3 linked regions of the Homo sapiens genome follow. The protein of the gene in region 1 interacts with the protein of each later gene in a pairwise test. Each region holds a gene or a part of one and is shown in the gene's direction. Other genes may lie near its edges.

Region 1 (3,748 bases):
TACAGGCGTGAGCCACGGCGCCTGGCTGACACAAGACTATATTTATGGAGGAAATATATATTTGTGTGTGTGTGTGTATTCAGAGTGCCAGGTACATAGTAGTTGTGCAATAAATATTAGCTACTTTTCCTCTTTTCTTTCTAAATTTTGATTTTGAGTCTTACCAACAAAACTAAAAAAACAAGCAAAAACTAAATATTAGATTTTTAGAAGCTTATAGGTACAAAAGTAATAAAATCAATTTTCAGTAGAAACTCAAATAGGTGAAAATCAAGTACGGTGTGAAACAATATCTAAGTAATTACATTTCTTCATAATTGAATACCAACAAAAAATCAGTTTTAAGCAAAACTCAGTGGATCGTCATTGATAGGAGTTTTATCTGCTGTTAATGCTGGATAAAATCCAAGAGCGGTTAGCACAACATCTTCATTTGACACACGAGGAAGTGGAGATTTAGCTCCCTGCAGATGACCTTGAGCACGTTTCTCATGCCTTCACTCCTGCTTCATGCAGTGCACTTGCAGTTCTCCATGTGTTCACCCCACACAGGCATTTCAGAATCCATTGGTTGGAACCGGTTTGTGCGTTCTGCAAATGAGATGACTGATGACACCCATCCTCTTGCAGTTGCCTGGGCTTGTCATCTTAGCCTTGCCCTGTGACTACCCTCATTCTCGCCATGGCCACTCAATCCACTGCCAAGCCCTGTAGCCCTTCCTCTTGCTGTGTTGCTCACAGTTCTTGCTTCCTGTTGGTCTCCACTAACACTTCCTCAGGTCAGGCCCTCACAATTTCTTTCTTGGCTAATTGTATTTTCACAACAATGAAAGTGCTGTTCTCTGCACCTTTAGTCTCTCCATTACGGCTTTGCAGTAAGTGGATAAGGCAGGCTCTGATACCAGATTGCCTATATTCAAATCCTGACCTTGGGCCTCTTCTCTGTAACTGGAAATCATAACATTACCCGCATGGTACTGTTAGGAGAAAACGAACATGTTATACATACAAAGGCTTCTCAACACCTACTAAATTGGTAGAAACGACTAAGCCAGTCTACTTTACTTCTCCAGGTTCTTTTATTCCACTAGTCCCCTTAAGAACAATGGTTTTTAGTCAAAATGGGCTGCTCATAGTTCTCTGAGCATATCTCACACTCTTCCAGCTTTCTTTTGCCCATGTTGTTCCCACAGTCTGCAGTGCCAACTGACCTTATTTTGTCTCCTCCAGTCATGATGTTGTTCTTCCTTATAACCATCCTAGAAAGCAGTTGGCTGATATGTATGAAGAGCCTTAAAAATTATCCTGCCTCTGGGCCGAGTTTGGCTGATCATGGCTGGGTTCTTTTACATATTTTGGGGTTGGTTAAATGTAGACTGGTCTTGGGTGGTGATATGGTTTGGCTCTGTGTCCCCACCCAATTCTCATCTCGAATTGTAATTCCCGTGTGTCTAGGGAGGGGCCTGGAATCCCCAAGTGTCAAGGGAGGGAAGTGATCAGGTCATGGGGTTGATTTCCCCCATGCTGTTCTAATGATAGTGAGTGATGGTTTTATAAGTGTTTGGAAGTTCCTCCTTTGTTCTTCTTCTCTCTCTTGCTGCCTTGTGAAGAAGGTCCTTGCTTCCCCTTCACCTTCTGCCATGTTTGTAAGTTTCCTGAGACCTCCCCAACCATGTGGAACTGTGAGTCAATCAAATCCCTTTCCTTTATAAATTACGCAGGCTTGGGTATTTCTTTACAGCAGTGTGAAAATGGACTAATGCAGGTGGCTTCAACCTGGACAACTGGGCTCTCTTACTACATGATCTCTCATTTTCTAGTAGACTAGCCTAGACCTGATTACATGGCAGCAGCAGGGTTCTCAGAAAGGCAAAGCAGAAAAGGTCTTTTGAAGTGTTGGCTTTAAACCAGATCCTCTTCCTTCCACCACATTCCATTGGCCAATGCAGACTGCAAGGCCAGTCCAGCTTCATGGATTAGGAAAGTCGATTTTGCCTCTTGATGGGCTGAACTTCCAAGTCACATTACAGCGGACATGGATAAGGGAGGGGTGAAGAATAGGGGGCATTTTTTTCCCCAATATATCCTACTAGAGATGGACAGAATTCCTACCTTTGAGGGTAGAACATGAAAATTAAGATCTGGCAGTACGGTGTAGTAGTTAAGGGCTCTGGAAACAGCAAGCAGACCCATCACTTACTGACTGGATCATCTCGGCAGATTATGCACATTTTCTATGCTTCAGTTTCCTTACTTCTATTTTTTAATTTTTATTTTGATTTTTTTTGAGACGGAGTCTCGCTCTGTCACCCAGGCTGGAGTGCAGTGGCGTGATCTCGGCTCACTGCAAGCTCTGCCTCCCAGGTTCACACCATTCTCCTGCCTCAGCCTCCCGAGTAGCTGGGACTACAGGCGCCTGCCACCACACCTGGCTGATTTTTTGTATTTTTAGTAGAGATGGGGTTTCGCCATGTTAGCCAGGATGGTCTTGATCTCCTGACCTCATGATCCGCCCACCTCAGCCTCCCAAAGTGCTGGGATTACCGGTGTGAGCCACCGAGCCCGGCCAGTTTCCTCACTTCTAAAATGAGAAGCATTCCTACATCGTGAGCTGTTGAGAGGATTGAATGAGTTAATATTTCTAAAGTGCTTAGAATCTCACTTGGCATAAAATGTGATATGAACTATTATTATTATTATATAAGGCAGGCAAAAGAACATCGTGTCCTGGGTCTGTGTTTTAGTCCCTGCTCAAGGAGCTGCATGCCTAACCCTAACCCTGTATATAATGATATATCATAATATATATGTGTCATGTTTTATCTATTCATCCATCAACGGACAATTGAATTATTTCCACTTTTTGGCAATTGTGAATAATACTGTTGAGTCTCAGCTTTCATTTCCCTTGAGTGTATGCTTAGGAGTGGATCTGAGGTTAAATATTAAGTATTTTGTGACTATAGGAAAAGCAAAGCAAAATATGAAGTCCAAATGTCCCCCTTCCTCTACCGTAGTTTCTCCTGAAACTACTGCCCAGAAATGTTTCTCTTGTCTGTCCCCATAATCCGAATTATGTAACTCTTCCTTATCATCTGTTGGAAAGCATTGCAATAGCTGGGCTACTTGTCTGCCTCACCTACTATATCTGTAAGCTCCTGGAAGGCTTGCTCATCTTTGCTTGCACAGTACCAGCCAGGTAGTGGTAGGCACTCGGTAAACATGAGTGAATGAGTGAATGACAGTTTCCGATTGCCTGTGTGTATTACAAAAACAACCCTCAAAAGAGGTCCAGGCCAGGCGTGGTGGCTCACACCTGTAATCCCAGCACTTTGGGAGGCTGAGATGGGCAGATCACTTGAGGTCAGGAGTTCGAGACCAGCCTGGCCAACATGGCAAAACCCCATCTCTACTAAAAATACAAAATTAGCCAGGTGTGGTGATGCATGCCTGTAATGCCAGCTACTCAGGAGACTGAGGCAGGAGAAATGCTTGGACCCAGGAGGCAGAGGTTGCTGTGAGCCGAGATCACACCACTGCACTCCAGCCTGGGCAAGTGACAGAGCGAGACTCCATCTCAAAAAAAAAAAGAAAGAAAGAAAGAAAGAAAGAAAGAAAGAAAGAAAGAAAGAAAGAAAGAAAGAAAGAAAGAAAGAAAGAAAGAAAGAAAGAAAGAAAAGAGGTGTCCATTTATTGATGCAACTCAGGACAGCTCCCACTGTCTTGTCTTTTCTTTTCTTTTCTTTTC
Region 2 (3,748 bases), on another chromosome or scaffold:
CCTCTTTGCTCAAACTACTTTCTCCTCCTGGATTCTGTTCCACCTTTCCTGTTCCTACTCATATGCTAGGACCCAGCATTAGTTCTAGCTCTATGATAAAGACACACACATTAATTCCAGCCATAACAAAATATCCCCCAAATAATACAAGGGAAGAAGTGCTCTGGAAACTACGAAATGTTCTGCAAATATGAAGTATTATTATATTTTGGAGAAATTAATTGTACAATAGGGTTGGCCCATTGTTATATCTTGCTTTAAAGTGTTTCCTACTTGTTTCATGTGTTGTTGACCTAACATTACAAAACCACGGGCTATTAAGATGGGAGTCACATCTCATTTCTTGTATATCTTCGCAGTTCCTAACAGAACATAGCTGCAGTCAACACTCAGTTCCAGTGAAATGAATTCATCAAAATAAAGGATTTCTTAGCCACAGAGCTTCTCACTGGGCCAAGTAATGTTAAGTTGCTAAACGCACAACAAATCATTGGTTACTTTATGTGATTGTAAATGAAGCCTCGAAAGTTGAATAAATTTGAGACGTGCAGTTGATGAAATTCAAGCATCTTCTTCTTTTTGGTTCATAAAGCTGTGATTCAGGAGAATTCCTTAAATCAGAGATTCAGTGCTCTAAGATTGAATAGGTTGCTTCATGATATTTCTTAAAATTTTGTTTAAGGTCAAAGGTTCAAACGGTGCAGCTCTCCAATTTGGTATTGATTATTGTTTGTTTCCCCTTCTTGATTCAGTGGTGGAGCACGCAGCCTCTGTCCTACTTCCTTTGGTTGTCCTGATTGATGCATCTTTTGGTCTAACAGGCCATAGCCTCAAAGCAAAGTCATGGCAAGCTTTAGTTGGCAGTTAGGTAACAGCAGTCTGCCAATAGCGTGGGCCAGCTCCAGTTCCAGCAGCCTGGCGGCAGAGGGTTTACTTGATGGACCCTGGGCCTCTTCCCCAGTCTGTCCCGTGGGTAGAATGATCTTTGCCTTTGTCTGTTTCGCAAGGCTAATGGAAGAATTAAATACCAAATAAAACAAGTCGAGATAAAGATAAATGAAGCGTGCCGTTATTACAACTGGTGCTTCGTCCTCAGTTCCCTCCAGGAGGGTTGTTGGGGACACTTAATGACCGGGCCTGAGCTGACTTGTCCACCACATCTTGCGCCCCACTCGAGCTAGTGGGTTGGGGATTGAGATGTTCATCAGGCCCCGGAAAAGGCATTGATGTCTAGATGACTGTGCAGTTCTCTGGAGTTCGAGATCTGAGCTGCCTGGCCCTGCTGCTTCGCTGCCTGGATGGGCAATCTCTATGGTGACAGCGAGTGAGGCCGGAAGAAGTCTCTCTCTTCCGCCCAACAACCCGCCCTCAGGCTAGACTGACCAATGGCCCAATGAGTTACGGAGAGATGGTGTGATTGACAGTGGAGTGGCGGGGGGGCGGGGAGTGCAGCTCGGACCGCTGCTACCCAACCGAACTGAGGTCGGTCCAAAGGCTGACAGGCACCGACCAATCGGAGGGCGTAACGAAGGGTGACGAGCCAACCCACCGCGCTCGGCGTTGCCGGGAGCCGCGCTAGGCGTAAGCTAATGAGGAAGAAGTTGGCCGTTGAAAGAGCAACGCTGATTAGTGAATCTTAAATCACCTAAATGAAAGCCCACTTGTGATTCGCCCTAAGTAAACCAGAGCCCCGTGGGCTGGAACGCGCCGGAATCTGAGGTGTGAGTAGAGCCTGGGGGAGAGTGGATCCAGGTGAAGGGGGCAGAGGTGAGGAAAGCGGGGCGGCTGCGGGGAAGGGAGAAAAGTGGAGGGTCGGGCTGAGGTGGTTGGAAGAAGGCGTGGGCGGACGGCGGTGCACGGACCTCGCAGACCACCCTTACCGCTGATCTGGACCCAAGGCCCGGCTAATAAATACTTAATTGGAGGCAGAGAAGGAAGGACTGTTTTGTTTCATGCTCTTAAGAAAAGGAAGTGTCAGTGCCTGATTCAGATCTCTTATGACCGAGACCTTAATCCCTCTCTAGCTCCTGGGAGGTGGCCAGGTGCACATTCTGAAGACGAGACATGGGGGGCATTGTTTTCCTGTCGCCAGTTTGAATCTGCAACAGGGTTGGGGAGAAGCTTAGAGTTCAAGTGGGGTGTTCCCAGGCTGCAGTGCTGTGAGATCCAGAGAGCGGATAGACCGAGGCTCTGCAGCGCTTCCAACCCACAACACCGTCCAGGAGAGGGATGCAAGGAAGAGACCTAGGTTTACTGATCCTCCTTTTTCTATCAACGTGTTAAGAGCAGATGCTACATCGGTGGCATTTTGGGAGCTTGGCAACTGATTTTTTCCCCAGGCTTGCATTTTATCTAATTACAAAGGTAGAGGCGTTATTCTAATATTTTAAAATTCAAAAGATAGTGAAGTGTTTAAAGTAGAAACATAAAAGTGTGAAAGTAACCCCCCCCCCCCGTTATTTTTGAAGGTTTGGAAAACAGCTATAAAGCAAAGTGAAAAGGACTCTTCCAGAGGAGCACTTCACTCCTTGTAACCCACTGTTTTCTGTTGCTTTCAAGGGCTTGAGTCAGTGTGAAAATCGGGGGATGGGTGAGATATCTCCCTCCAGCAGCAGCACTTAGGCCACATTACCCTCTGAGGAATCCACATTTGTCTTAGATAGTAAGTCATCTTATAAGTCATCTTATAATGGCAGTTAGTATTCTCGCTCATGATGATCAACCTGGTGATGAGTACCGTATTTTTAATCCATTAGGTTACCTGTGCAGGGATCAGTCCATTTATTCCTATTTTCTCTGACAGCTGGATGAAAGGGTATGTAGAAACAACCATTAAATGAACACACACATCTAAAAGGTTTTGAACAAACTCTCTCAGAGAAAAACCTCACAGCATTGAGCACAGAAGGAAAACATTAGCCCTGTAGTTGCTTTTGTTGTCAGCTGCTGAACTGTTCAAATTTAAATTATTTTTTTTCACTCCAGTCTACCTGCTTTAAATGCCACAGATATTAAGTAAATGGACTTACCCTTGAAATCGGGTTGGCCAAGCCATCACTTCTCAAAGAAGGTTTAATGATGGCATGAACCCGTTTTTATATTTTATTGTATTGTACTCAATAACAATAATTTAGCTATTCTAATATGGGAAATTATCACAGATATTATTCTCACATTTAAATAAGATAAAAATGACTAGATGTTCTCTCTTCCTCTATAGCAGCACTCTATACTATACCCAGCCCTTCTTTTCTATGCTTAGTAAGAAAATGTATAGTTTGCTTATAAAATTATGAGCTCCATTCTTAAAAGAGCTTGGGAATATTTATCTTATTACTTTAAAGCCATACCATATATAAATCCAATGTCTCACGAACTCTTAAGCTACTAAGGGGGATTGAAGGGCAACATTTCTAATGGCGCCAGCCAGCTTCAACTACCATTTGCCCTCTATTCTAACTGTTAGAGTTGGTCCAAGTCTTCTGGGTTATTTGTGTAATATCCAGAATAGCACAAATTAAATTTAAATAGTTGTTTTCTTAAGAGCAGTACCATCAGCTCAGTCAACTAAGCTAGAAACTTGTGTCATTTCTAACACCTTCTCCCTTGACACAGCTAAGACTGGAGGTCAGACCCTCATCATCTCTTATCTGGAGAATTGCAATAGTTTCCTAACTGGTCACCCAATTCATATGCATCCTGCTGCCCATTACCTTTTTAAAAATTAAAAATTATCACGAAAAATTTA
Region 3 (3,748 bases), on another chromosome or scaffold:
GATTCTCGGCCAGCAGTGAGGAGTGGGTACTGGGTTAGCGGGTGAGAGGGGCATTTCACAGGTCCTAGGGCTGGCTGTGAGATGGATGAGATGGGCACAGACTCCTGGAGAGTTCAGCTAGGGGTGGGAGGGGTCAGGGACTGTAACCAGGCATAGTGGGGGCAGCGGTTCTCTAGACACGGTGGTCCTGAGGCAGGGGGTTACCGCGTTTGGATATCTGAGTCGCTTGGTCTTGTGACTGCTTTTTTTTGATGGGCACAGGGTTCAAGTGGCAGCAAGCAGTGCACAAAGCCTCCTCCATGAGTTCTGCACTGATCTGGGACAGGTATTCCTCAGAACGAGATAACGAAGCCTGGGAAAGGAAAAGCCGGAGGGGTTCAGCCTGGGAGCTCCCACATGGGAGTGCTGGCTGTGGGAGTTCCCAGGCTGGGGCCTGTGGGTCCAAGGAGCTTGCTCCTGAAGGACTGGGCCTTGAGATTTAGCTAGAAAGCTCTGGACCTGGGGGAGGGGGGTTTGGTGGGGGTTTAGAGTCAGGGCCTAGTGCTGAGAGCTATGAGTCGGGGCTTCAGGACTCAGGGTTGAGGCTAGAGTCTCAGGGCCCGTGGCTCAGACCTGGCACGGGGTGCCTCTGCCTGGGAGGCTTTCACTTCATTACATTCCCACCTCTAGGGTTCCCTGCAGTGCTCACCGGACCTCCTCTCAAGGAGGGTGCAGCTTGAGATGGCCAGCTGCTCTTCTTCTCCCCCTCATTCCCCATCGGAGTGGACGCCATCCCCCTGGGAACAGTCGAAGCCTGAGTTGACCTGAGAAACCAGCCCGCTTTCCCCCAGAACCCAGTCCACCACCATTCCCCGGGCCCAGGTTTAAACAAGGCCTTTAGAGGAAACATCCCGCTGCCTCATTCCCTCTCACAAGAAAAAATAATAATAATAATAAAGGTTGCTTTATATCTTCGGGAGTGAGAGGGAACTCCCGCAACCCCCTACCCCTCACCCCTTCGCCTGGTGGGCCTCTCCTTCCTTCTTCCCTCCCAAGCACCTTCCCAAGCCGAGGCAGCCGACTTGACGCCCCAGACCTGGCAGATGGGTGGAAACCTTGGGCTACTCGGCAAAAGGAGAGACGTGGAGGCCTAAGGACCTCTGGTATAGGTCGTGGGGGATGGAGAATGGGAGATGGGGAGGAAGGCTGGAAAAGGGGGAGCCGGCTCCGTGTCGCTACCGGACGCTATAAAACCCTTGGAGTCTGCAGAGGTTCCGCAGCCTCGTTGCTAGGAGATCAGGGGTTCTAGAACTAAAGACAGAGGAATTTCCTAGCGCGCCCCGTTTGCTCCTCCAGCCTCCCCTCCGTACCCCTCCAGGTGCCTCCTTGAGGGCAGTGACCCCAAGCGCCAGACGCTTGAGAAGCTTGGGAGGATGACGTAGGGTGGAGCCTGCGACCTAATCCTCCCATCACAAGGGGCACGCGAAAAGCAACCCATCTGCAGGGCGCTCTGGAGCCTCTCTAGCCGCCTAGAGCCTGCGAGAGCAAAGGCGGCTGGAGACTTAGGGGGCGGGGAGTAAAGTGAGGACTGCACCAAATCTCCTGGCCTCTTGGGGACGCAAAGACTCAGGAGGAGGAATTTTATCGCCTTATCTTTGCCTCCAGGAAGTCATACCCTCCACAAAAGGAAAGCAGAGATTTTTATTCGGTCTTCTCTTTTACCCTTTCCTTTTCCGTTTCTAACTTTGCTTGACGTTAATGGTTCCTTCCTCCCTCTCCTCCTCTGCGCTTTGGTACGAGCCAAGGGAGAGGGGCGGAGGGAGGAAAAGGGAAAGGAAGCCGACAGGCCTTAAAGGGGCCGCAACTATTTTTTTAAGCCACTTTTTCCTCTCTCCAATTTTGCAACGACGGGCGCGGAGGAGGAGGTTCCCGGAAGCCACGCGCAGCTGGAGCAGCGGCGACCGCAGCTGGAGGCCCGGAGCGCCTGCGGGGCTGGCAGAGGCGAGGGAGGTTGCGGGTAGGAAGGGCGGACTGCGCGCGCCCCCTGCGTCCCGCGCACCTCGGGGCCGGTCCATGCTCCCGACGGCTGCGGGCTTCAGCATCTGGGGCCAGGTTGGGGCGGCGGGGTCCAGGGCGCAGGTGGTGCGGCCGATGCGCCGGGCCGGAGGCTGAGGCCGCGCTGCGGGGCTGGGACAGCACTGGCATCTCCAGAGCAGGCCCGGGGCAGCAAGGGAGGCGCCGCGATGCCAGACGAAAATATCTTCCTGTTCGTGCCCAACCTCATCGGTGAGTGCTGCCCACGGCCCCGGGCCGAACGAGAGGGCGAGGGGCCTTGGCGGGCTCCCTGATCCTGCCCTGTCTCCCCGCGTCCCGTTCCAAGGTTATGCCCGGATTGTCTTCGCCATCATTTCTTTCTACTTCATGCCCTGCTGCCCCCTCACGGCCTCCTCCTTCTACCTGCTCAGCGGCCTGCTGGACGCTTTCGATGGACACGCTGCTCGCGCTCTTAATCAAGGTGACAGACACCCCTCTCAGCCAGCCTTGGGGTTCAACAATCCCCTCCTCCCTTCCCCTGCCTCCTCGGGACCTCAGAGTCAGAGGGCTGTCATTCCCATCTCTGGAAAAAGCAGAACAGGATGGCCTGGGGCTTTTTGTTTTGTGTTTTGTTTTTTTGTTTTTGAGACAGGGTCTCGCTCTGTCACTTAGGCTGGAGTGCAGTGGCGCGATCATGGCTCACTGCAGCCCCCATCTTCTGGGCTCAAGTAATCCTCCCACCTCAGCCTCCTGACTAGCTGGGACTACAGGAGCGTGCCACCACACCCGGCTAATTTTTAAATTTTTGTAGAGACTGGGTCTTGCAGTGTCGCCCAGATTGGTCCCCAGCTCCTAGCCTCAAGCGATCCTCCTGCCTTGCTCCCAAAGTGCCGCGCCCAGCAAGAATGGACTGATTTTGTAGCAAAAGGAATTTAAGCTAGCTCTTGAGAACTCACTGCTTGTGAGAGGTGTGGATTAGCAAGACATGACATGGCGGTGGCGCTGCTGGAGGTCTCTCTGAATACAAGTCCATTCAGGCCAGGGGCGGTGGCTCACGCCTGTAATCCCAGCACTTTGGGAGGCCGAGGTGGGTGGATCACGAGTTCAGGAGTTCGAGACCAGCCTGGCCAACATGGTGAAACCCTGTCTCTACTAAAAATACAAAAATTAGCGGGCTTGGTGACGCGTGCCTGTAATCCCAGCTACTCGGGAGGCTAAGGCAGGAGAATTGCTTGAACCCGGGAGGCGGAGGTTGCAGTGAGCCAAGATTGCGCCATTGCACTCCAGCCTGGGCGACAGAGCAAGACTCTGTCTCGGAAAAAAAAAAACAAAAAACAAAAAACAGTGTATTCAACAGGTGTTTACTGGAGGCCTACTGTGTGCCCTGCATAAGCAGTTGGGGTTCCAGAAGGCATGCTTAGAGGGAGGATGGAGAGGGAAGGGTGATGGCTTCTGGAGGGTTGACTAATTTTTTAATCTGTTCTCCAGACCCAACTGTAAGGCTTCCCCTGAGGCATCAAGTCTCTATCTAGCCCTGGAGTCTTGGTTCTGGGGTTGATGAGTTGCAGACATAGCTTTCCTCTCCTCCTACCCTGTTCCCTCCACTCTCATGCCTTTCTCAGTTCATGCCATGGTGACCTTTGCCCACTGACCTCACACACAGCCTGTTTTCTAGCCTGCGTTCCTCCCCAGGCAGGCGGACACTTCCAGTCTTCGTTTACACCCTGCGTCAGAG

Evidence for each region.
Region 2: the proteins of SLC10A6 (region 1) and TMEM218 interact in binary tests that used the Homo sapiens proteins (3 or more experiments, as listed by UniProt).
Region 3: the proteins of SLC10A6 (region 1) and CDIPT interact in binary tests that used the Homo sapiens proteins (3 or more experiments, as listed by UniProt).

Annotation. Positions count from the first base shown.
Region 1 is NC_000004.12:86,842,717-86,846,464, reverse strand, and holds part of SLC10A6 (sodium-dependent organic anion transporter), read left to right. Parts: intron 1-3,748. UniProt on the Homo sapiens protein: Transports sulfoconjugated steroid hormones from the extracellular compartment into the cytosol in a sodium-dependent manner without hydrolysis.
Region 2 is NC_000011.10:125,109,558-125,113,305, reverse strand, and holds the start of TMEM218 (transmembrane protein 218), read left to right. Parts: upstream 1-1,679; 5' UTR 1,680-1,767; intron 1,768-2,559; exon of another isoform or gene 2,560-2,662; intron 2,663-2,756; exon of another isoform or gene 2,757-2,815; intron 2,816-3,748. UniProt on the Homo sapiens protein: May be involved in ciliary biogenesis or function.
Region 3 is NC_000016.10:29,861,332-29,865,079, reverse strand, and holds the start of CDIPT (CDP-diacylglycerol--inositol 3-phosphatidyltransferase), read left to right. Parts: upstream 1-1,853; 5' UTR 1,854-2,222; coding exon 2,223-2,265; intron 2,266-2,359; coding exon 2,360-2,494; intron 2,495-3,748. UniProt on the Homo sapiens protein: Catalyzes the biosynthesis of phosphatidylinositol (PtdIns) as well as PtdIns:inositol exchange reaction. May thus act to reduce an excessive cellular PtdIns content.